6 separate regions of the Homo sapiens genome follow, and regions 1, 2, 3, 4 and 5 are each linked to region 6. The links come from fine-mapping of genetic effects on gene expression. A gene starts in region 6. Each other region holds a variant in brackets. All regions are shown on one strand. Distances are between the middles of the regions. Region 1 holds the start of SSH1 (slingshot protein phosphatase 1). Region 2 overlaps ACACB (acetyl-CoA carboxylase beta). Region 3 overlaps SELPLG (selectin P ligand). Region 4 overlaps SART3 (spliceosome associated factor 3, U4/U6 recycling protein). Region 5 holds the start of SELPLG (selectin P ligand). Region 6 holds the start of TMEM119 (transmembrane protein 119).

Evidence for each region.
Region 1: its variant is fine-mapped to the expression of TMEM119 in whole blood (INTERVAL, PIP above 0.99).
Region 2: its variant is fine-mapped to the expression of TMEM119 in caudate (GTEx, PIP above 0.99).
Region 3: its variant is fine-mapped to the expression of TMEM119 in blood mononuclear cells (TOPMed, PIP above 0.99). The same link has a PIP of 0.9 or more in T cells, monocytes and whole blood.
Region 4: its variant is fine-mapped to the expression of TMEM119 in whole blood (TOPMed, PIP 0.91).
Region 5: its variant is fine-mapped to the expression of TMEM119 in nasal epithelium (TOPMed, PIP above 0.99).

The regions. Positions count from the first base shown.
Region 1 is chr12:108,857,541-108,861,627 of GRCh38, reverse strand. SSH1 (slingshot protein phosphatase 1) reads left to right here and starts at 4,045. Exons shown (of 15, transcript NM_018984.4): 1 at 4,045-4,087. RefSeq lists a silencer at 3,576-4,087. The variant GAAGA/A (reference allele first, on the strand shown) is at 2,324.
Region 2 is chr12:109,135,409-109,139,495 of GRCh38, reverse strand. It overlaps ACACB (acetyl-CoA carboxylase beta), which reads right to left. Exons shown (of 53, transcript NM_001093.4): 2 at 1-99. The coding sequence starts at 90. Among named protein-coding and RNA genes, the nearest start is that of ACACB, 21 kb to the right of the region's middle. The variant A/T (reference allele first, on the strand shown) is at 1,705.
Region 3 is chr12:108,621,003-108,625,089 of GRCh38, reverse strand. SELPLG (selectin P ligand) reads left to right here. Exons shown (of 2, transcript NM_003006.4): 2 at 778-3,195. The coding sequence starts at 783. The coding sequence ends at 2,021. Among named protein-coding and RNA genes, the nearest start is that of SELPLG, 11 kb to the left of the region's middle. The variant A/G (reference allele first, on the strand shown) is at 1,602.
Region 4 is chr12:108,521,297-108,525,383 of GRCh38, reverse strand. SART3 (spliceosome associated factor 3, U4/U6 recycling protein) reads left to right here. Exons shown (of 19, transcript NM_014706.4): 18 at 878-1,068; 19 at 1,750-3,170. The coding sequence ends at 1,927. Among named protein-coding and RNA genes, the nearest start is that of FICD, 8.1 kb to the right of the region's middle. RefSeq lists an enhancer at 1-788. The variant G/A (reference allele first, on the strand shown) is at 1,843.
Region 5 is chr12:108,629,896-108,633,982 of GRCh38, reverse strand. SELPLG (selectin P ligand) reads left to right here and starts at 89. Exons shown (of 2, transcript NM_003006.4): 1 at 89-243. All of the region lies in intron 1 of LOC105369968 (a long non-coding RNA gene), which reads right to left. RefSeq lists enhancers at 568-617, 2,026-2,175. The variant T/C (reference allele first, on the strand shown) is at 1,858.
Region 6 is chr12:108,595,925-108,600,011 of GRCh38, reverse strand. TMEM119 (transmembrane protein 119) reads left to right here and starts at 1,928. Exons shown (of 2, transcript NM_181724.3): 1 at 1,928-2,042.

The sequences.
Region 1 (4,087 bases), 260 kb before region 6:
CCAGCCTGGGCAACATAGCAACACCCAGTTTCTGGCAAAAATAAAGTCAGCCAGGCGTGGTGGTGTACACCTGTAGTCTCAGGTACTCCGGAGGCAGAGGCAGGAGGATGGCTTGAGCCCAGAGTTCAAGGCTGAAGTGAGCTAGGATTGCACCACTACACCCAGTCCTGGGTGACAGAATGAGACCTTGGCTCTTAAAAAATTTTTGTAAATATTTTGACCAGGTGCAGTGGCTCACACCTGTAATCCCAGCATTTTGGGAGGCCGAGGCAGGCAGATCACTGATTTCAGGAATTTGAGACCAGCCTGGCCAACATGGTGAAACCCCATCTCTACTAAAAATACAAAAATTAGCCGGTCATGGTGGTGGGGGTCTGTAATCCCAGCTACTCGGGAGGCTGAGGCAGGAGAACTGCTTGAACCCAAGAGGCAGAGATTGTGCCACACTGCACTCCAGCCTGGGCAACAGAGCAAGACTCTGTCTCAATTAAAAAAAAAAAAAAAAAGCAAATTTTAAAAATATTTTATTCATCATGGATTTGGCATTAATTTTGATTTTCTAAAATATTGCATTAAAATACTATTTATCTTAATCATTGAGTTTTTGGGGGCACCCTCTTACATTTTGCACCCTCACGCTGGTCCCAGCCTGATTCCTGAGGCTTTTCTTAGGGACCGTTCCTGGCTCTACGGTAATGGGACAAGACAGAGAGATGGACCCATTATGATAAGGCAGACTGACACTTGCTGTGTGTTTAAGGGTAGGGTGAGGGCTACGAGATCCTGGAAATGACACTGCTTAAGGGGCAGGGAAAGCTTTTTGGAGGTGATTTCTAGCAAGAGTTAGTTGTGGGGAAGAAAAGGGCTCTCAGCTCTAAGAGGAAGTGAGAAGGGGTGGAGACTGCCTCCAAAAAAGTTGGGGTGAGTGGAAAAGCAGGCCGGCCAGAGCAGGGGGATTAGGATTGGGGGCCACGGACGGGTACCAGGATCAGATCTAGGTAGGAATTTCTTGGTGAAGAGGCCATTGCATTTGTATAGGCAGTAGTTCTCAGACTGTCGTCCCCAGACAGAAGCATCAGCATTGCCTGTGAATTTGTTAGACGTGCAAATTTTCCAGCCCTACAGCAAACCTTGTGAATTCGAAACTCTGGGAGGTGGGGTCTAGCAATCTGTATTTTCTCCAGGGGATTCTCAAACTCTCAAATTTGAAAACTAATGTAAGAGAGACATAAAAGAAAAATAAATCATAATGAAACAACATGCATTACAATGTGGAAATGCTCAGCCACTACTCCCTTAGAGGACACAGGGGCATCTCAGAAGCATGGGCCTGCCAATAATCAATGTGCTTGGATTTGAGAAATAAAATATTCTCTACTCAACTGAATTTTGTCCACAATTTTCCCTTATATTTGACATTTAAGTACCTATGACTGTCTGTCTACCTAGAGTGCAGCTACAGTTGTGGGCACCTTGTGTGGGATGCTCTAATATTAGCAGAGGCGTTGCCATCCATTACCTCCTTTTCCCTAAGGATGGATGAACAACTCTTGACAAAACTCTCAAGCAAAACAAAGTGTATTTTCCCTTCCTTTCCCTCCCCTCCCCTCCTCTCCCCTCCCCTCCCCTCCCCTCCCCTCCTCTCCCCTCCCCTCCTCTCCCCTCCCCTCCTCTCCCCTCCTCTCCCCTCCCCTCCCCTCCCCTCCTCTCCCCTCCCCTCCTCTCCCCTCCCCTCCTCTCCCCTCCTCTCCCCTCCTCTCCCCTCCCCTCCCCTCCCTTCCCTTCTCTCTTTCTCTCTGTCTTGCTGTGTCACACAGGCTGGAGTGCAGTGGCACGATCTCAGATTGCTGCAACCTCTGCCTCCCGGGTTCAAGTGATTCTCCTGCCTCAGCCTCCTGAGTAGCTGAGATTATAGGTGCCCGCCACCATGCCTGGCTAATTTTTTGTATTTTTAGGAGAGACAGGGTTTCAACATAGTCACCTTTCTGAAAATTCAGTAAAAAATACCAGGCTAGCCATGGTGGCTTCTGTCTGTAATCCCAGCACTTTGGAAGGCGGAAGCAGGAGGATTGCCTGGGCAACATAGTTAAACTTTTTTTTTAAAGGAGCTGGGTGTGGTGGTGTGTACCCGTTGTACTCAGGAGACTGAAGCAGGAGGATGATTTGAGCCTGGGAGATGGAGGCTGCAGTGAGCTATGATTGTGACATTGCACTTCAGCCTGGGTGACGGGAGTGAGACCCTGTTTCAGAAAAAAAGTGAGAGAAAGAGAGGAAGGAAGGAAGGAAGGCAGGAAGGAAGGAAGGAAGGAAGGAAGGAAGGAAG[GAAGA/A]CTAGTGTTGATGCATGAAATGGAGTTAGGTTCTGGCTTCAAATTACTATAAATGGGTTTTTCACCCAGGAAACATTTTGTGGGAATGGAGCAATTCTTGTTGGGGAGACTGTCCAGTGCATTGGAAGACATTTAGCATCCAAGGCTCTTGCACTCTAAATGCCAGGAGCTCTCCCCCTCCATCAGCAAGACAACCACAAACATTCCCACAAATCCCCTCTTAGAAACGCTCCGTAGAAGCTACAGTGCCCCCCACTAGAATCACCTTTGAGATGAATCGTGCTGAGACCCTGTGAATAACATGGAGGAGGTCACAGCCCCAGGACAGAGGGAGGGACGGGGAAGAATCCAGGAGGCTGCGTGGGTTTCCTGTTGGGCAGTAAGACAAATTTGCTAAGCTGCGGGGCAGGCTGGGACCACTGCGTTTGCGAGTGCTTGTGCAACATGCAGAGGTTGGGGGTGGGAGCCGGGAGATGAGATTTTGGCTAAAAGAAAAGTTTCCTACTACTAAGTCAAGCCAGAATTGCCTTCTTGGTATCTTATTCCATGTTCCCCTCTCCATCCCCATAACTGGTCACCTCTCCCCGGGACAACAGCAGCAGCCTCCTCCCTGGTCTCCCTCAGCCCTCTGCCCCGTGGTCCCTCATCCACGCAGCAGCCGGAGCGATCTTTCCAGAGAGGATGGAGACTCCAGCCATTCCTCCCCTCTTCCCTTCCCTGAGTGCTGGCCTCCGGTTGACAAACTTCTTCCTGCTTCAGGGCACGCTGATCCCCCCTGCTTGGAGAGCTGTCTCTCTGTTCTTTCACCTGTTAATCCTGCTTATGCTCAAGCCCAAGCCTCAGAATAAAGCTCTTCTGGGAAGCCTTCCCTGACCTCCAAGGAGTTGGCTGGGTTTCAGAACACCCAGAAAGAATTCATTGAAAAAGATTAGCAAAATACTTTTTTAAAAACGTGCCTAATAACTTGATTAACCTCTGCAAAATCAGGCGAATCTATTTTGCTTACTGTTTTTGTTTTTTGTTTTTTGTTTTTTTGAGACCGAGTCTCGCTCTGTCGCCCAGGCTGGAGTGCAGTGGCGCGATCTCAGCTCATTGCAACCTCCGCCTCCCAGATTCAAGCGATTCTCTTGCCTCAGCCTCCCGAGTAGCTGGGACTACAGGCGCGCACCACTGCGCCCAGCTAATTTTTGTCTTTTTAGTAGAGACGGGGTTTCACCATGTTGGCCAGGATGGTCTCGATCTCTTGACCTCGTAATCCGCCCGCCTCAGCCTCCCAAAGTGCTGGGATTACAGGCGTGAGCCACCGCGCCCGGCCCCAGGACGTCTTTTATTTCCTGGTCGCTGTACAGTCCTGTCTGCACGGTCGCCGGGCCTCAGTTTCCCCAGGCAGAGCAGCGGGCAGGGCCCCTGGGGCGTACGGGCTCCGGGCGGCGCGCGCGCCCCCGAGTCCCAGGCCTGATAGCGGGGCGCGCGGGCGGGGGCGCGTGTGTCGGGCGCGCGAGGGACGTGATCGACCAGCCGAGGCCTCGGGCAGCCCTCAGGGCCCCCGCGCACGCGCGCCTCCTCGTCCCGCCCTGCCCGCTTCCCCGCCCACTCCGCGCACTGAGGCCTGCGCGCGCCGGCGCGGGAGGCGGGAGCTGGGGGCGGGGGCGGTGGCGACGCCGAGGGGGAGGGGCGGGCCCGGCCCGGCTCGGCCCGGCCGCCCGCGCGCGGCTCCAGGAGGCCCCGGGCCCGGCCCGGGCGGCGGTGGCGGTGGCGGC
Region 2 (4,087 bases), 540 kb before region 6:
CTTGGAGTCCGTCATTTTCCCCCAGATTTTTAACCAGGAAAAGGTCAGACAGGAGAAAATCAGACAAGATAGACAAAGAAGCAAGACCATTCAGAAAATCTGTAAGGAGAAAAGGAGAGACATTTTAGGATTTACATAATCAAGTGATTTCTCTCCTAAAGAAGCTAGTGGGGCAGGAGGCTGTTGGGGTGCTGTGTATTCCTGAAATACTGGACGAGGGGAGAGATGGGGTTCTCCTCCCTGCTCTGCCTGAAACAGGCTTGGACATATTCCTTCACCCCTCTGGATCTTAGTTTCCTGCCAAGGTTCAAGGAAGAACCTTGAAAACTGCTAAGTTAAAGAAGCCAATCACAAAAGGTCACATATTATACGATTCCAAGTATATGAAGTGTGCAGAACAGGCCAATCTTGAGAGACAGAAAACAGATTAGTGGTTGCCAGGACCTAGTGGGATGGGGATGATGGCTACAGAGTGTAGGGTTTCTGTTTGGGATGATGAAAATGTTCTAAAGCAGATTGAGGTGATGGTTGTACAGCTCTGTGAATACAGTTAAAAAACATTGACTTGTCCTTTACATGAGTGGATTGTATGCCATGTGAATTATCTCTCAATAAAGCTGGGGTTTTTTTGTTTTTTTGTTTTGAGATGCAGTCTCCCTTTGTTGCCCAGGCTGGAGTGCAGTGCCGCAATCTCTGCTCACTGCAAACTCCGCCTCCTGGGTTCAAGCAATTCTGCCTCAGCCTCCTGAGTAGCTTGGGCTACAGGCATGCACCACCATGCCTAGCTAATTTTTGTATTTTTGTGGAGACAGAATTTCACCATGTTGACCAGGTTGCTCTCTAACTCCTGACCTTGGCTTCCCAAAGTGCTAGGATTACAGACGTGACCCACCGCGCCCAGCCAAAGCTGTTATTTTTTTTTTTTAAAGACTCTTAATTATATTCCACTTTATAAATGAAAGGGAATTGTTGCTTCTGTCATCATCATCATCATTCTAGTATTATTATCATATAGTCAGTCACCATCATGGCCCTGGAGGGAGGAAGGGCGCCATCATCCCCAGTGTGGGGTATGCTTACAACTAGCATAGAAGCCCAACAAGCCTCGGGAGACTGTTTTCTGTTGCAGGGTCTAGACCAGTGCCTGGTATGCAATGAGGGCTTACAAGTGTGTATTGAAAGAATGAACCCAGGTATTCCAATCTCTAAGCCACACCTCTTTCTATCACCCTAACTCTGCCCTACTAATGAGTAGATCATTGTTATTTGAAGGAAATCTTGTTTTAAAAATGAGCCCAGTGCGGTGGCTCATGCCTGTAATCCCAGCACTTTGGGAGGCTGAGGCGGGCAGATCACCTGAGGTTGGGAGTTTGAGACCAGCCTGGCCAACATGGTGAAGCCCTGTCTGTACTAAAAATAAAAATACAAAAATTAGCTGGGCATGGAGGTGGGTGCCTGTAATTCCAGCTACTCGGGAGTCTGAGGCATGAGAATCACTTGAACCTGGAGGTGGAGGTTGCAGTGAGCTGAGATCATGCAACTGCATTCCAGCCCGGGCAACAGAGTGAGACTTGGTCTCAAAAACAAAAAAAAAAAGAAAAAGAAAAGAAAAGCCCAGGAGGCAGAGGTTGAAATGAGCTAAGATGGCACCACTGCACTCCAGCCTGGACAACAGAGTGAGACCCTATTTCAAAAAAAATTTTT[A/T]AATGGGACCTCTCTCTATGTGTTGAAATTTCTGAACCAATTTTGCCACAATTATATACTAGAAGCATTACAAAAGTGGACCACAAAGCTCAGCAGGTCAATTTGGTATCTAAAAATCCTTTTTTTTTTTTTGAGTCAGAATCTGACCCTGTCGCCCAGGTGGGAGCATAGTGGCGTAATCTCAGCTCACTGCAACCTCTGCCTCCTGGGTTCAAGAGATTCTTGAGCCTCAGCCTCCCTAGTAGCTGGGATTACAGGTGCCCCCCACCATGCCCGGCTAATTTTTGTATTTTTTGTAAAGATGGGGTTTCACCATGTTGGCTAGGCTGGTGTCTAACTCCTGACCTCAAGTGATCCGCCCACCTCTGCCTCCCAAAGTGCTAGGATTACAGGCGTGAGACACTGTGCCCTGCCATAAAGCTTTTTCTTTTTAAATTTCAACACAATGTTTTTAAAGGAAGTGGAAAAGTTCTCAATATTTCCCAGAACTAAACAATCCAAGTACTTCTTACACACTTTCAGCAGCAGAATTTGCTGATATGTTGCCAAGGCTATTTTCTAGGTAGTACACAGGGTCAGAGGGGTTTTTTCCTTTCAAGATCATCATGTGTTTTTTTTAAAGAAAAGTCAGTCAAGGGTGGCTCAATGTCAATGTAACATGCCACATTAATGGAACAAAGGGAAAAAAACCACATGATCATCCCAATTGATGCAGGAAAAGCATTTGACAAAATCCAACACCCTTTCATGATAACAACATTCAGAAAATTAGGAACAGAAGGGAACTGCAACTTAATAAAGTACATTTATGAAAAATCCACAGCTAACATCATACTAAATGGGGAAAGGCTGATAGCTTTAACCAGGAATAAGACAAGGATGCCCACTTTCACCAGTGCTATTCAACACTGTACTGGAAGTTCTAGACAAACCAATTAGACAATAAAATGAAATAAAAGACATAGAGATTAGGAAGGAAGAAGTAAAGCCACCCCTATTCACAGATTACATGGTCCTATATGTAGAAAGTGCCAGATAATACACACACAGAAAACCTTGGTATTGTAGAGGTAATAAAAATAATTAAGCAAAGTTGCAGGATACAAGATAAATACACAAAAATAGTTGTGTTTCTATACACCAGTGGTAAATAATCTGAAAAAGAAATTAAGAAAACAATTCCATTTATAATAGCATTCAAAAGAATAAAACACCTAGAAATAAATATGTTTAATTTCAATGTTTCCTTTTTCTATTATTGCCTATCACACTTGTTTCCTACCTAGGAATAAATTTAACCAAAGAAGTGAAAGACCTGCACACTGAAAACTACAAAACATTACTAAAAGAAATTAAAGAAGAATTAAATAAATGGAAAGACATACCTTGCTCATGGATTGGAAGACTTATTGTTAAGATGTCCATATTATCCAAAGGAATATACAGATTTATATGGAATTTCAAGAGGCCCCAATCAGCCAAAACAATCTTAAAAAATATGTTTGAAGATTCACATTTCCCAATTTAAAAACTTACTACAAAGCTATGGTAAACAAAACAGCATGGTATTTGGCATAAGATAGACATATAGATCAATGGAATAGAAACCTATACATCTATGGTCAATCTATTTTTGACATGGATATCAAGACCATCCAATGGAGAAAGAATGATCTCTTCAGGCCAGGCATGGTGGCTCATGCCTGTAATCCCAGCACTTTGGGAGGCTGAAGCAGGTGGATCACGAGGTCAGGAGATCAAGACTATCCTGGCTAACATGGTGAAACCCCATCTCTACTAAAAATACAAAAAAATTTAGCCAGGCATGGTGGCAGGCACCTGTAGTCCCAGCTACTTGGGAGACTGAGGAAGGAGAATGGCGTGAACCCGGGAGGCAGAGCTTGCAGTGAGCCGAGATCGCACCACTGCACTCCAGCCTGGGCGACAGAGCAAGACTCCGTCTCAAAAAAAAAAAAAAAAAAAGTATTACCTCTTTAACACCACATGGTGCTGGAACAACTGGATTTCCACATGCACAAGAATAAAAAGTTGGACCCCTACTTCATACCACATACAATCATTAACTCAAAATGGATCAAAGACCTAAATATAAAAGCTAAAACCACAAACCTCTTAGAAGAAAACATAGAAGTAATTCATCATGACCTTGGATTTGTCAATTGATTCTTAGATATGACACCACAAGCATTGGATGCTTCTTGATGAAGTCCAATTTACCATAAGAAAAAATAGGTAAATTGGACTTCATCAAGATTAAAAGCTTTCGTGAATCATAGGATGCTATCAAGAAAGTGAAAAGATAACCTACAGAATGGGAGGACCACTTGCAAACCATATATCTAATAAGAGTCTAGTGCCCAGA
Region 3 (4,087 bases), 25 kb before region 6:
AGTGGTCAATTAATCTATTTATGAATTCTGTGCAGGTACTACTTTACTCTTATGATAGATTATAAATAATGTAATACTTGAAATTAAGAAGGAGTGACATGAGGTCGGGCGCAGTGGCTCATGCCTAATCCCAGAACTGTGGAAGGCCAAGGTGGGCAGATAACTTGAGGCCAGGAGTTTGAGACCAGCCTGGCCAACATAGTGAAACCCCGTCTCTACTAAAAATACACAAATTAGCTGGGTGTGGTTGTGCATGCCTGTAATCCCAGCTTCTCAGGAGGCTGAGACAGGAGAATCACTTGAACCCGGGAGGTGGAGGTTGCAGTGAGCTGAGATAGCGCCACTGTACTCCAGCCTGGGTGACAGAGCAAGACTCCATCTAAAAAAAAAAAAAAAGAAAAAAGGAGTGACATGAAAAGTTAATAGAACTAGAAGCAGAAGCACTAAATCTTTCTACACCCCAGTGGATTGTCTTGTCCACAAATAAAGTGGCTTAACCAAAATGGAGAGGGAGGCAAATCAATTTCTATGCACCATCTAGAAGAAGTTAAAGGGCCCTCCTGGATGGCTTTATTCATGTTGATGAGTAATAATAATAACTGCTACTGGCTGAGGATCTTCTCCATCCCAGGCATGTCAGGGATGCCTAAGTCCCCAGTCCCTGCTCCAGACCAGACATGCTTCCAGCTGTGGCAGTAGAGGGTGGTGGTCTAGGGTGCTTGCTAAGCCCAAGGGTGAAACTGTCTTGACATCCCTCCGCCCATTGTCTCCTCCTAGGTGCCATGCCTCTGCAACTCCTCCTGTTGCTGATCCTACTGGGCCCTGGCAACAGCTTGCAGCTGTGGGACACCTGGGCAGATGAAGCCGAGAAAGCCTTGGGTCCCCTGCTTGCCCGGGACCGGAGACAGGCCACCGAATATGAGTACCTAGATTATGATTTCCTGCCAGAAACGGAGCCTCCAGAAATGCTGAGGAACAGCACTGACACCACTCCTCTGACTGGGCCTGGAACCCCTGAGTCTACCACTGTGGAGCCTGCTGCAAGGCGTTCTACTGGCCTGGATGCAGGAGGGGCAGTCACAGAGCTGACCACGGAGCTGGCCAACATGGGGAACCTGTCCACGGATTCAGCAGCTATGGAGATACAGACCACTCAACCAGCAGCCACGGAGGCACAGACCACTCAACCAGTGCCCACGGAGGCACAGACCACTCCACTGGCAGCCACAGAGGCACAGACAACTCGACTGACGGCCACGGAGGCACAGACCACTCCACTGGCAGCCACAGAGGCACAGACCACTCCACCAGCAGCCACGGAAGCACAGACCACTCAACCCACAGGCCTGGAGGCACAGACCACTGCACCAGCAGCCATGGAGGCACAGACCACTGCACCAGCAGCCATGGAAGCACAGACCACTCCACCAGCAGCCATGGAGGCACAGACCACTCAAACCACAGCCATGGAGGCACAGACCACTGCACCAGAAGCCACGGAGGCACAGACCACTCAACCCACAGCCACGGAGGCACAGACCACTCCACTGGCAGCCATGGAGGCCCTGTCCACAGAACCCAGTGCCACAGAGGCCCTGTCC[A/G]TGGAACCTACTACCAAAAGAGGTCTGTTCATACCCTTTTCTGTGTCCTCTGTTACTCACAAGGGCATTCCCATGGCAGCCAGCAATTTGTCCGTCAACTACCCAGTGGGGGCCCCAGACCACATCTCTGTGAAGCAGTGCCTGCTGGCCATCCTAATCTTGGCGCTGGTGGCCACTATCTTCTTCGTGTGCACTGTGGTGCTGGCGGTCCGCCTCTCCCGCAAGGGCCACATGTACCCCGTGCGTAATTACTCCCCCACCGAGATGGTCTGCATCTCATCCCTGTTGCCTGATGGGGGTGAGGGGCCCTCTGCCACAGCCAATGGGGGCCTGTCCAAGGCCAAGAGCCCGGGCCTGACGCCAGAGCCCAGGGAGGACCGTGAGGGGGATGACCTCACCCTGCACAGCTTCCTCCCTTAGCTCACTCTGCCATCTGTTTTGGCAAGACCCCACCTCCACGGGCTCTCCTGGGCCACCCCTGAGTGCCCAGACCCCATTCCACAGCTCTGGGCTTCCTCGGAGACCCCTGGGGATGGGGATCTTCAGGGAAGGAACTCTGGCCACCCAAACAGGACAAGAGCAGCCTGGGGCCAAGCAGACGGGCAAGTGGAGCCACCTCTTTCCTCCCTCCGCGGATGAAGCCCAGCCACATTTCAGCCGAGGTCCAAGGCAGGAGGCCATTTACTTGAGACAGATTCTCTCCTTTTTCCTGTCCCCCATCTTCTCTGGGTCCCTCTAACATCTCCCATGGCTCTCCCCGCTTCTCCTGGTCACTGGAGTCTCCTCCCCATGTACCCAAGGAAGATGGAGCTCCCCCATCCCACACGCACTGCACTGCCATTGTCTTTTGGTTGCCATGGTCACCAAACAGGAAGTGGACATTCTAAGGGAGGAGTACTGAAGAGTGACGGACTTCTGAGGCTGTTTCCTGCTGCTCCTCTGACTTGGGGCAGCTTGGGTCTTCTTGGGCACCTCTCTGGGAAAACCCAGGGTGAGGTTCAGCCTGTGAGGGCTGGGATGGGTTTCGTGGGCCCAAGGGCAGACCTTTCTTTGGGACTGTGTGGACCAAGGAGCTTCCATCTAGTGACAAGTGACCCCCAGCTATCGCCTCTTGCCTTCCCCTGTGGCCACTTTCCAGGGTGGACTCTGTCTTGTTCACTGCAGTATCCCAACTGCAGGTCCAGTGCAGGCAATAAATATGTGATGGACAAACGATAGCGGAATCCTTCAAGGTTTCAAGGCTGTCTCCTTCAGGCAGCCTTCCCGGAATTCTCCATCCCTCAGTGCAGGATGGGGGCTGGTCCTCAGCTGTCTGCCCTCAGCCCCTGGCCCCCCAGGAAGCCTCTTTCATGGGCTGTTAGGTTGACTTCAGTTTTGCCTCTTGGACAACAGGGGGTCTTGTACATCCTTGGGTGACCAGGAAAAGTTCAGGCTATGGGGGGCCAAAGGGAGGGCTGCCCCTTCCCCACCAGTGACCACTTTATTCCACTTCCTCCATTACCCAGTTTTGGCCCACAGAGTTTGGTCCCCCCCAAACCTCGGACCAATATCCCTCTAAACATCAATCTATCCTCCTGTTAAAGAAAAAAAAAAATGGGACTGGGAGCAGTGGCTCATGCCTGTAATCCCAGCACTTTGGGAGGCCGAGGCAGGTACATCACCTGAGGTCAGGAGTTCAAGACTAGCCTGGCCAACATAGTGAAACCCTGTCTCTACTAAAAATACAAAGATTAGTCAGGTGTGGTGGCACATGCCTGTAGTCCCAGCTACTGGGGAGGCTGAGGCAGGAGAATTGCTTGAACCCGGGAAGCGGAGGGAGGTTGCAGTGAGCTGAGATCACGCTACTGCACTCCAGCCTGGGTGACAGAGTAAGACTCCGTCTCAAAAAAAAAAAAAAAGATTCAATGACCCTTGTTAAAGCATGGTAAGGAAGACTTTGTTCAAGGGGAGTGGGACTCTCTCAATCACTGCAGGGACTGCAGCTATGGGATTTTGCAGTGGGGGCATTTGGGCTCAACTATGAGTACAGCAGGGGCAAGTGGGAGCTGATAGCCAGGGAACAGGGTTGGATATCTGCAGCTGGAAAATTACCAAGAGGAAACATCAGGGGAAGGGGAATTCTGGCTAAACTGACTGCTGGGGATGGGTTCTCGGTCATTTTCTACACTGACCTAACAGGATTCATACTGGAGGCAGGCCAGGGTGCTCAGACATCACCGGGGGGATGGTGGCAGATGAGGAACGTGATCAGATATAGGAGGTGATCAGATATGGGAGGTGATCAGATATGGAGTGGTGGGGGGAGGGTTGTTGCTAAGCTGACTTAGCAGAGTTCTTGTTAGAACTGGATTTTATTTATTTATTTATTTTGAGATGGAGTTTTGCTCTTGTTGCCCAGGCTGGAGTGCAATGGCGCGATCTGGCTCACTGCAACCTCCGCCTCCTGAGTTCAAGTGATTCTCCTGCCTCAGCCTCCTGAGTAGCTG
Region 4 (4,087 bases), 75 kb after region 6:
ATTTAACCTCTAGAATGGGTTCCTAGTTTGTCTGCTGAGAAACAAAAGTTAATTTCACAGAAAGATCTGCACTTAGCTCTACTTATATTTGGAGTCAGATTAACCTGTTTGTAGTTAATTGTACTAAAAAGAATAAGACACTTGGAAATAGAGGATCATGAATTCACCACACTATGGCCCCTGGCTGTGGGGCTTGGGGGAAGCCCTGTGACCAGCAGCATACGGGCTTTGGGGTGGGCGCCCTCCTGCAGCCTTCTCCCTCTGTCCCAGGCCTCTCTTTCTCTGGGGCCTCCAACCAGGCCCCTTGAGTCCCTCCATTGCAGTGCCTCTTCTCCTGTCTTTCCTTCTTGCCCCCTCAGTCTCCTGCTAAGTCCTTTTGTGCCCCATTTTGAGTAGTAAGTGGTTTCATTACTGTCTACCCACTGCCCACTCTCCCTCCCCTTTATCCAGGTTAATGGAGAGAAAAAGAGGATGAAATGAGGGAGCGGGTGAAGGCACAGAAACACGAGGGCTCACCTGGGCACCTGGGCTGCTGGCCCTGTGTCCCATCCACCTCTTGGTTTATTTGCTGGATTTATACTGGTCCATCTGTCTTTTTCCTTCTTTCTTTCTACTTCTGCAGCACGTACAAGGTGTGCTGAACTTGGAAGGGTTATCTGAAGTTACAGTGCATAGCAGCACTCGGGAAGGAGAGTAGGGTGGGGAAATAAGCCTGTAGACAGAGGATGCGGTGGTGGGGAAGGTAACCTGTTGGTGGGTCGTTTGCTGTGGCCTGGTCTGCTGGTCTCCGGGAGGAAGCCCAGTGCCTGCCCTGCAGGAGGAGGTTGCGTCCCTAGTCTGCGGGATCTGACTTGGTTCTGGATCTTGCCTCTTCCAGGGCCTGGCCTACGTGGAGTATGAAAATGAATCCCAGGCGTCGCAGGCTGTGATGAAGATGGACGGCATGACTATCAAAGAGAACATCATCAAAGTGGCAATCAGCAACCCTCCTCAGAGGAAAGTTCCAGAGAAGCCGGAGACCAGGAAGGCACCAGGTGGCCCCATGCTTTTGCCGCAGACATACGGAGCGTAAGTGCTTGCATGGTAGACTAGTGCAAACTTCGTCCTGGCTGGCACCAGTTCATGGATCACGGGGGGATTAACCCGGGATGAATTAGCTTCCTGTTAGGACAGAAAAGCCAAGATGTGCTGTTCCTTGTGGTAATCACTGTGGTTCCACTGGAGCAAGGCGTCCAGAGCAGGATGCAAGCCTAGGCAGTGACCTCTGCCTGGTACTGGCCAATTTACACTTGTCATTTATTTCAGACAGAAATAAGGCAGTGATTATTTTAAAGTCCCCTTTGCCAGTTGGATCTGTGTGTTTACAAAGAAATCTCATACCCATGTGTGTGCCAGTCTACGGCCCTAGCTATGATCCACATAAGCTGTGCTGTTCGCTGGTTTGGGATGAGGAGGAGATAGCAGAATTGCCAGGTGACTGGTGAGGTCTGAGAGGTGATAGTCACACTGATCCCCTCTGAGTGTGACTGGTGCTCAGGGTTGATCTTTGCCAAAACTGAACAAGGCCAAGTCTGTTGAAGCAGTTTTTACTTCATAAACAGAATTAAGGAGGCAGGGATTATCTTATCCTTTTTTTTTTTCACCTTTTAACTTCTGGTTATATTAAAACTGTCTTGGCTTATTTTCACAAATAAATGAGGGGCCACGAATTGTTGCTTCAAAAGGTCCATTCAGTGTTTGCTCTTTTAGGAGGGGGAAGGGAAGGACGCAGCTGTCTCTACTGCCTCGTGCCCTGCAGCGCCCAAGTGCTGCAGCTCCTCAGGCTGAGAACGGCCCTGCCGC[G/A]GCTCCTGCAGTTGCCGCCCCAGCAGCCACCGAGGCACCCAAGATGTCCAATGCCGATTTTGCCAAGCTGTTTCTGAGAAAGTGAACGGGACGCTGGGAGACAGGAAATGCCTTACTTCACTCTGGCCCGGCGGACCTCCCACCACCCAGCAGTGCACTGGGGATGGACAGGCCTGGTGTGCTGCGTGCTCGCAACCACAGATGGCTCCTCGGCTTTAGACAGAAAGGGGAAGGGGTTCTAAGTCAAGAGCCTTTCAGTGCTCCCTCATATTGAGGGCAGTGGCAGAAAAGTGACCACTCTGCAGGCTGGGCCCAGGATGTGGTGTCCTGAGATAGTTTTGTATCTTAAAGACTGAGGCACAGAAGCGAAACGAGAACACACTGTTTTTGAGACACAGTTGTCCAAATGTTTCTGGCCAGCTCCGGCCCCTTTTTGTATGACACTTCTCTTCCACCCTGCACAGCACATGTGCCCGTCATTCTTTTAATTTTAAAAGATGAAATGGCAGATGCTAGTAATTCACAGAATGGCCTCTTGTGGGGGTGGGTCTGAGGGAAGTCAGCTATAAAACATTTGCTGGAGTTTTGTTCAATGGGGCTGTGCATTTTTATATTATGTGTTTGTAAATGACATGTCAGCCATTGTTTCATGTTTCCTAAAAGCAGAATATTTGCAACATTTGTTTTGTATAGGAATTATTTGTGCCACCTGCTGTGGACTGTTTTCTTTGCCTAGTGACTAGTGACCTGTGTTGTCTAAACATGAGTTTCAGCCCTTTGGTTTTGTTTAATACCATGTCAAATGCAAACTTCAATTCTCCCCATTTAGCTTTATTAAACTGACGTTCTCTTCAAAACTTCTTGCTGAATGGTACTCAGATGTGCATTCACATACAGATGTGTTTTGAAGTGGGTGTACCTTGCTTTACCTAATAGATGTGTAAATAGAACTTTTGTAAGTCAAATCCCATTGTCACTTTGATTTAAATTATTCCAGCTGTGATGTGTCTTCATTTTATAGCAGTTTGACACTGGAGCTTTTGAGCTTTTTTACCTCACATCTTTTATCAAATAATATTTACTGCTTTGAAAACAGCAACAGCATTGGCCAGTTCAGTAGGGGAAGCTTGCTTTATTAAGACACTCTGGAGAAAGACGTCAGGGAATCCTTGTATATGTCGTGGGAATCAACTCCTCATTTATCTGTTGCGTAAGTTTAAGTTTTTGTGCATCAGTCGGGTTTTCTATATTTTTTTAACTTAACATTTTTTAATATAACCGATTAAAAAGTAGACAGAACAGTAAAATAAACTCCTGTGTGCCTACCATTCAGCTTCCAGCATTCCTCAACTCCCAGCCCCTCTTCCTTCATGTCTGTTTCCCCTCCACCCTCTGTTATATTGAGGCACGTTCCAGATGTCATTGTGCTCATCCAGTAATGTTGCGGCAGGTGTCTCAGGAGGACTGAAAGGCCTTCACTCCTAGAAACATTAGTGGTAATCCCTTCATGTCATCAACTGTCCACTCAAATTTCCACCTTCCTACAAATATCAGCTCTCCTCCCTGTAAATTATTGGTTGGTAAGCCTCTTAAGTCTTAAAAGGTAGGTTCCCCTCCATCTCTTTTTTATACAAAACCAACTTTTTACTAGGCTTTACTTCTGAATTAAATTCAAGCGGCGGCTATTGACAGCAGCAAGAACCTTTGCTGTCCCACGCGTTCCTCCTGCAGTGTTCTCTGTGATGCTGCTTGGAAGGCTGATGGACTGTTCAGCTGGTGTGATGATTTGGGTAGCTCAGAGCCCTCATGGTTGGGGACCTGACACATGAAGAGCCCTGAATATCACTATGGGTGAGTGTGGCCTTACTTTTTGCTGCTTCACATTAACGGTTTGGCTTTGCCTGCAGCCAGTATTCTGACCTTAATGTCACACTTGCAGATGTCAGCCCAGGCTTGGTACAGGGGCAAACCTTTTCAGGCTTGAGCAGAACCCAGTTAGGTTCCGGGTGTTGACTGTTCTAGAAATGGATTTCCAGGACTACATGAGTGGGTTTGTGTGTTTTCCCCAGAAAATCCAGAACTGATGATAAATAGAAATGTGAAAAACTACTTCAGTTACTTGACTGTTTGTTAGTAAAAAAAAATCAGTAATTCATCCTTGCCCACCTAGGTAGGCGGTTTATCCAACTTCTGGGTCTCTTGCCCATGGAAATCACCATCTTGGATCTGTTGCTCTCCCAGAACA
Region 5 (4,087 bases), 34 kb before region 6:
AATGTTGTCACCAAAGCTGTCACAAACAATGGGGTGTGGGCTGTCACATGGCCCTGCCTAAGTAACCACATTCTCGCTTCCTCCTTCCACACACAGCCATTGGGGGTTGCTCGGATCCGGGACTGCCGCAGGGGGTGCCACAGCAGTGCCTGGCAGCGTGGGCTGGGACCTTGTCACTAAAGCAGAGAAGCCACTTCTTCTGGGCCCACGAGGCAGCTGTCCCATGCTCTGCTGAGCACGGTGGTAAGTGCTGGCTTGCAAAACCACAGGGAGTGGCTGGAGGTCCCCATGGGCCAAGGGCCTGCCTTATAGCTGCTGGCAGGCCCGGGTAGGACCGCCAGGCCCTTCTTGAGCTGCAGCACCTGGGGAGGGCAAACTGAGGCTCCTCCGACTCAAGACTAAAGTCTTCCTGGAGTCTGTGGCCTTATTCTGTGACTCTTCTGAATCCTGCTCCTGCCAACTTTTTTTTTCCTTCTTTTTTTGAGACAGGGTCTTACTCTGTCACCCAGGCTGGAGTGCAGTGGCACAATCATGGCTCACTGCAGCCTTAAACTCCTGGGCACAAGTGATCCTCCCACCTCAGCCTCCTGAGTAGCTGGGACTACAGGCGCACATCGCCGCATGCAGCTAATATTTTTACCTTTCCTAGAGATGGGGTCTCACTTTGATGCCGAGGCTGGTCTCAAACTCCTGGCCTCAAGCCTCTTGCGTTGGCCTCCCAAAGTGCTGAAATTACAGGTGTGACCCACCAGCCCCAGCCTCCCATTAACTTACTTCCCTCCCTGGCCAGTTTGCCTGCAGCGTCTGGCTTGGCGGCATTCTGATTTTGAAAATCAGAGAAACCATGAGTGTTTCCCTAGAAATGATCTTATCCTCTCCTTTCCTGGATGGGAAACTGAGGTCGGGAGAGGTGAAGGGATTTGTTTAGGGGCAGAGCTGAGATTAGGTCTGGAAGACTCCAGAAAGTAGGGGGAGTGCAGGATTTCTCTTGAAGCTGCATGTTATGGACGCATAAAAAAGTTCTTTTCAGAGAAAGATGCATTCTTCCCACTTTTTATAAGACTGAGGAAATGACACTTGTCTGTGGCAAACTATTAAAATATTAGAATTAAGATACTATTGTTAGCAAAAGGGAAAACAATAATAATAATAATAATTAGAATATTTGGCTGGGTGCAGTGGCTTACACCTGTAATCCCAGCCCTTTGGGAGGCCGAGGCAGGTGGTTGGCCTGAGCTCAGGAGTTCTAGACCAACCTGGGCAACATGGTGAAACCTCGTCTCTACCAAAAATACAAAAACTTAGCTAGGTGTAGTGGTGTATGCCTGTGGTCTCAGCTACTTGGGAGGCTGAGGTGGGAGGATCACTTGAACCTGGGAGGGGGAGGTCGCAGTAAGCCGAGATTGTGCCACTGCACTCCAACCCGGGTGGCAGAGTGAGACCCTGTCTCAAAAAAAAAAAAATTAGAATACTCTTATTAGTTTGTATTTGAGATACTTTCAGGACACTAAAAGGAAATGGTGGGGGCCAGTTGTGCCCTGCTGTACACACATTCACACACACACACACACACACACACACACACACACACACCCCATATTGTCGATATCTGGGCTTCTGTTGCCTGGAATTCTCTTCCTCTTTCCTCTTTCTTCTGTTTTCCTTTTTTTTCCATCTCTGACTTTGAGGCCCCCAGAGCCAGGCCCCTCAGTGGGCCGGGGCCTCAGAAGGTGGCTCCCAGGCCCTCAGACAGCCCCAGAGTCTCTTCCGAGGCCGTGCCCTGGGTGGTTGATGCCTCCCTCAGCAGGCTTGGCCAGCAGCCAGGGGAGTTAAACCTCAGAGAGCGGAAGGGCTGGG[T/C]TGCTAGGCTGGGCCCAGAGTGGGGCATTCAGAGGAGCTGGGGAATCAATCATCCGAGAACCTTGGAGGGTGGACAGTGCCCCTTTTACAGATGAGAAAACTGAGGCTTGAAGGGGAGAAGCAGCTGCCTCTGGCGGCATGGCTTCTGGCTGCAGGATGCCCATGGAGTTCGTGGTGACCCTAGGCCTGTGTCTCGGCTTCCTTTGCTGAACTTGAACAGGAAGATGGCAGTGGGGGCCAGTGGTCTAGAAGGAGATAAGATGGCTGGTGTGTGTGTGTTGGGGGTCTGTGTTTGTTAATCTGTCTGTCTACACAGGGGTGTTTAGAAAACTGTTTAAAGACAGTTGTTCAACTAACCAGATGTAGGTCTCATTGAATTCATTTGTGCCAAGTACCTTACTGCCTCTGGATCAGGCCAGCAAGTTTGGGTTCCAACAGGTGTAACTTGGTTCTTGGTGGGGTGGAGGGTAGGGAGGGGGGTGTAACAAAAAAATCTCAACTAACACTGTGGTTTGCAAGCCACCAAACATTAAACAGATATACAGCATATCTGTGCTATTAACTTTTCATGAGGAGGGCTGGTCACCGTGGCTCATGCCTATAAATCCCAGCACTTTGGGAGGCTGAAGCAGATGGATTGCTTGAGCCCAGGAGTTTGAGACCAACCTGGGCAACATGGGGAAAACCCATCTCTACAAAAAATTTAAAAGTAGCCGGGTCTGGTGGCATGCACCTGTAGTCCTAGCTACTTGGGAGGATCGCTTGAGCCCAGGAGTTCAAGCCTGCAGTGAGCTATGATTGCACCACTGTAGTCGAGCCTGGGCAACAGAGAAAGACCCTATCTCTAAAATTAAATAAATAAATAAACCTTTCATAAGGGCGATGATAAGTGGGAAAAAATGTCTACAGAGACTCCCTGATGTGAGTTGAGGTAGATGACGGAAAGAGGTTGCAAAGTGTCAGCTGGCAAATGTGGTGTGAAAAGTGTGAAGACAGCACGTGCTGTGCAGTTCTGTGCACGTTCCCCTGCCTCAGTCACATGTCCTCTTCTGCAGAGGCATTTAGTGAGGCCCCTGGGGATGCCAGGAGACCCAGGAGAGCTCCTGCCCTCCAAAAACTTGTGGTCTGGTGGGGGCAGCAGAGCAGACAGCCACAGTGGTTGCCAGCCACTGGGGCGAGTGTTGCGAGGGGTGTGTGCCTGCCCATCGGCTGAATCCTGGGCCTGTGGCCTGATCAGCAAGACAGCTGTGGTTCCTGCCTTCTGGAAGTTTAGGAGTCAATGTGAATACATTTTTAGAAAATAAATGAACAGCAGAAATGATTTAAACACGGGAGGTGACTAATCGTGCCTGGGGCAATCTGGAAAGGCTTCTGGGAGGACTCAGCATTTCCCTGGCCCTCTTCAACCCACAACAACCCCATAAAAAGCGGGTGCTACCATTGTCCTTGTATTCCAGCTAAGGAACCCACAGCTCAGAGAGGTGAGGTGAGTTGCCCCAGGTCACACAGCTTCTAAGGGACAGAGCTGGGGATTGACCTGGTTTGATGTGACTCCCAGGGCACAGCAGGGCAGGGCAGGGCCTGTCCTGTCTACCCAGACTTAGATCTGCTGCCTGTGCCTCAGTTATCTGGGGTCTTTCCTTCTCTTGGTGACTACTTGACCCAAACCCTGAGATGCTCAGTCTTTTGAATTTTAGCATTCCAAGATCCTGCCCGCTCTGACCACCAGTTTCAGGATTCTCAGTGCAAGGTTCCTAGCGGCGTGGAGCCCCACGAGGATCTTTCCTGAGCAGCTCAGGGCGGCCACACGGCGGGTTCTCTGGAGCTGGAGTCTGGGCCCCCTGCAGCCTGCTCCTCCACACAGCCTAGATGGGGCCCATATGGGGTCTAGATGGGGCCTGGGCCAGAAGCAGCCTGGTTTTAGGGCGAAAGAGGCAAACGAGCAGTCTCTGACCTACTCTGTTAGGCAAGTGTTGAGACAAATAGGACGTGGTCACTGGAGACGCCTCTGTCGGAGCCCTGCCCTGGCCCCACTTCTGTGGGACTGTTTTTTGGCCTTCCAGGAAGAGGAGAGGTGGAAGGTGGGGCCTGGGAGTGATCCCGCCGCTCCGGGCCTTGCTTGCTAATCAGTGTGATGGCACCGTTAGAGCCAGTGAACACAGGGGTGAGGAGGAATGAGGTCACCAGATAGTGAGAGGATGAAATCATCCCTCCGTGGGAGGGGCTTCCA
Region 6 (4,087 bases):
ACTCCCTACTGCCTCCTAGGTGACCTTCCAATACTTTAGCCCAGCTCCTGCCAATGTCTCCAACACTTACTACCCCTCCTTCAGGGGGATGCTCTGCCCAGGAGGGAGAAGCAAAGAACGAGGGGAAGGGGACTCCGAGAGCTTCCCTCAGGCTGGGCCTCTGGGGCCACCTGTGCAGGGAGCAGGCTCTATTTGGGTTGGTTGTGTCCCTGCTCCTCGACATCCCAAGGTCCCCAGACTGCAGCCCTCAGAATGTTGGGTAAGGTCTTCTTCCCCTGCTGGTGGGCCCTGGGGGAGGTTTGGCTGCCCCTGACCACCCGATGTCTGGTCTAAGACAGGTCAGGTAGGCCTGGAACACCCCTGGCCACCTTAAAGCGGGCACAGCTGCTACAACATGTCTGTGGGTGGCCACTTGCCCCTGGGACATGTGTGTGCATGAATGTGTCTGTGCGAGTATTGGTGGATGGTCCCCTGTTCCCTCGAAGATGCAGGGTTTGGGGTGATTTCCAGAGAAGATGGGAAAGTCTCTGATTTTATTTCCCAAGCAAATGACTGTCCCAGTTTTCTGGGGGTGAGCGAGGGCTGCTGGGACCATTGCAGGGAACAATGATAATCTAGGCTTGGTTCCTACCCAGAGAGCACGCACTCATCCTTCATGCACTCCCCTGTTCCAAACCCTCACTGGCTCCGTACTGCCTCCGACCTTCCGAGACTTTAGCCTGGCTCCTGTCAACATCTCTGACCCTTACTACATGATCCTCTCTTTGGTCCATGCTCCAGCCTAATCTAATTGCGGTGGCTTGTGCGTGGTGGCATTCCCAGCCACCATACCTTTACCCACGCTGGTCCTTCCATGCGGAATGCCTTTCCAGGGCCTGCTTTGCCCGCTTCTGCTCATACACAGGCATGCCCTCCAGGATGGCTTCCTACCTCTTTCCCTTGGGGGATTGATCTCTCTGTCTTGGGGTTCTCGGAGCCCTTGACCTGACCCCTTTCTGTTTGGCAAAAAAGTAATTTACCTCGGTGTCCTTCTCCCTGGTAGTCTGTGAGCTCCCCAAGGCTGGGCTGTGCCTGATTCACCTCTGGAACTTGCTTAGCACAGTGCGTGGCCTGCTGCAGGTGTTCATTGAGCACTTGCCGAATGAATGCATGAATGAATGAATGAATGAATGAATGCAAGGGGCTGCTAATCCACAGGACTCCTCAGGTCAGCCAGACGTCCCGGTTCCAAGGCCTGCCACTGACTCACCTCAGGACCCTGCTTGAACCATTAGAACTCACCCTGCCTCACTTTCCCCCTCTGTGAAATGGGGCTCCAACTCCTATTCAAGCTACTATCATTTGGGGGCATTGTGAGGCCACAGATCCCAGAACATCAGAGTCAGAGGTAGCCCAGAAAGCTTCCCACCCATCCCTACAAATGGGAAACTGAGGTCTGGAGAGGGAAGGGCAGAGTTGGGCTCCCTGTCTCAGGCTCGGACCCACCATCAGGCCTGTCTCTAAAACGAATCCCAGCTCCCACGCTGCACCCTGAGCCTGGAAGCCTGAGCCACACAAGGACGGGGAATTTTCCTTCCCACTTCCAGAGGCCTCTGAACCTCCCTGAGCTTGTCCCCTTTGGAGGGTATTGGGCAGCAGCGTGGGCAGAACCCCAGCTCACTGTCTGGGGGAGCGCTGCAGGACAGCCTTGTCTGTCTGTCTCAGCCTGCCCTGGGGACCCGAGGTCAGGGAGGAAGTGCCGCATCTGGTCTTCCCCAGAGCGAGAGTGTGAGCAAGGGTGGGATTGCGTGTGGCCCGAGAGTAGCCCCTCCCCTCCCCCTGTCCCCACCCCAAACCCTCTTAATGAAATCAAGCTGGCCCTGCGGCCCAGCCGGGGAGGGAGGAAGGAGGAGGGACGGGAGGAGGGACGGGAGGAGGGAGGGCGGGCAGGCGCCAGCCCAGAGCAGCCCCGGGCACCAGCACGGACTCTCTCTTCCAGCCCAGGTGCCCCCCACTCTCGCTCCATTCGGCGGGAGCACCCAGTCCTGTACGCCAAGGAACTGGTGAGTCCTGGGGTCCCCTCCTCTGTCCTGAGAGCCTGGAGCTATCTTGGAGCTTAGGGACTGGGGACTGTTGGAGCACTCTGGGGGGCCTCTCTAAGTGTGTGTGGGCTTTGAGTGTGTGTTTGGTGTTGTGTGCATGAGTGTGGTGGAATCTGAGTCCCGTGTGCGGTGCTGGGGTGGGCCAGGGTGGGCCGGAGTGTTGTGTGTGTGCGGCTGGGGCCTTGGTGTAGGGGGTGTGTTGCTTCCACTTTTCTGCAAGTGGATGCCAGGCTGTTGCTTCCAGGATCTGTGTGAGGGTGATGTGGACGGTATTGTCCTGTGTGCAGGGATCGGCTGTGTGTCAGGGGGTTGTGTATGTATATGTGTTGTGTGTCCGTGTGTGTTCTCTGTGTATTGTGTGCATGGGCCATGAGAGTGCTGTTGGGTGTCTCAGTGCTGTGTGAGTCGGTGTGCCTGTGTTGTGTGTCTTTATATTGTGTGTCCATGCTGCTCTGTGTGTGTGTGTGTGTGTGGAGGGGGATTGTGCCCCCAGGACCCCCCTCCCCATCCAGACCTCCAGGGCCCAGGTCCCTGTCCTTGGCTGGCCCTGGGGTCGGGGGCATGTGCAGTGCTCCAACCAGAACACCCCTCCCCCACAAGGCCACTGATTGAAGCCAGGTTTCCGTGGGCCGCCCCTCCCCCAAAGGCCACCAGTCTCTGGGTGGGGGTGGGGCAGCCCCCGGTCCCCTAGCTTCAAGTCTTGGGGCCCCCAGGCCTCAGGGGTGCATCTGCACTCCTCCACAGACTCAGGACCATCTTAGGGCATTTGCCACACTTACACACGGCCAGCCCTGCCTGACATGTCCCCAGGCAGGGAGTCCTGGGCAATCACGTGGTACCTGCTAATTGGCACCCACTGTGCACCAGGCATGGCCGCATCTTGTCCTAACAGCAGTCCAGGGAGGTGGCTCTTATCCCCATTGTACAGATATGGAAACCGAGGCTCAGAGAGGTGACATGCCCAGCCCAAGGACACATAGCCGGGAAGTGACCTCCTCTGGGATATACCAAGACAGGCTTCTCTGTCCAGGGCTCTGCTGGGCTCACCCCTGACTTTCTGTGTGACCTGGGCAGGCTGTTTCCAGTCTCTGGACCTGAGTTACCTCTAAGGTGAAGCAAGAGGCGTTGGGCCTGACCCCAGCTCCTAATGGCCTGTTAGATTCTGAGTCCTTGAAAAAATTAGGGTCCGGGGGGAGGTAGGCAGAATAATGACTTCAGAGCTGCCCAGAACAGTGCTTCATTCCACAGATGGGAAACTGAGGCCCAGAGAGGGCAGGGGCCGTCCAGGGCCACACAACCATCTTTTTTGAGGCTCTGCTGACTGCAGGTGGGGCTGGGTCCTCCATACGTTGCCCCCACCTTTCCCTGGAAGCCAGGAGGGGTTGTGGGGTGCAGGGGACTCTGAGAGTCAGGGTCTCAGCCTTAAAGAGCCAGTGGCAGTTTGTGTGTTCTCCTTTCTTGCCCTCTGCCTCTGACTTCGTGTGTGTGTGTGTGTGTGTGTTGTATGTATATGTGTGTGTAGGTGTATGTGTGCATGTGTGTGTATGTGTATGTGTGTGCATGTGTGTGTTTGGTTCTGCATTCCTTGGCGGCCAGAGCTAAAGAGGTTTCACTGAACGGGGTGAAAAGGTTGGTCTTTCACTGGGTGGCGGCCGGACCAGACAGTGAGCGCATGTTCCCATCCGGCGATGGTGCTCATTTGTCGACTCAGGGTGGGAAATTGCTGGCTGAACCTGGAGTTCGGCTAGGGAAGGAATTCAGCTACCCCAGACCCTATCTTTCCTCGGGGCTCAGCTACTTCGCACCAGGCACTCTCTGAAAGTTGTCTCATTTGGCCCTAACAGCTCTGAGAGGTGCTACCTGTGGTCACCCTGTCCCAACTTACGGATGGGGAAAGTGAGGCCCACAGGAGCCAGACCACAGAGCTGGATGCGATGGAGCCGGGATTCTTGACCCAGCCAGAACTTGAGTGGGTCTCCAGCCACCCATGGTCCCAGCTGCCCTCT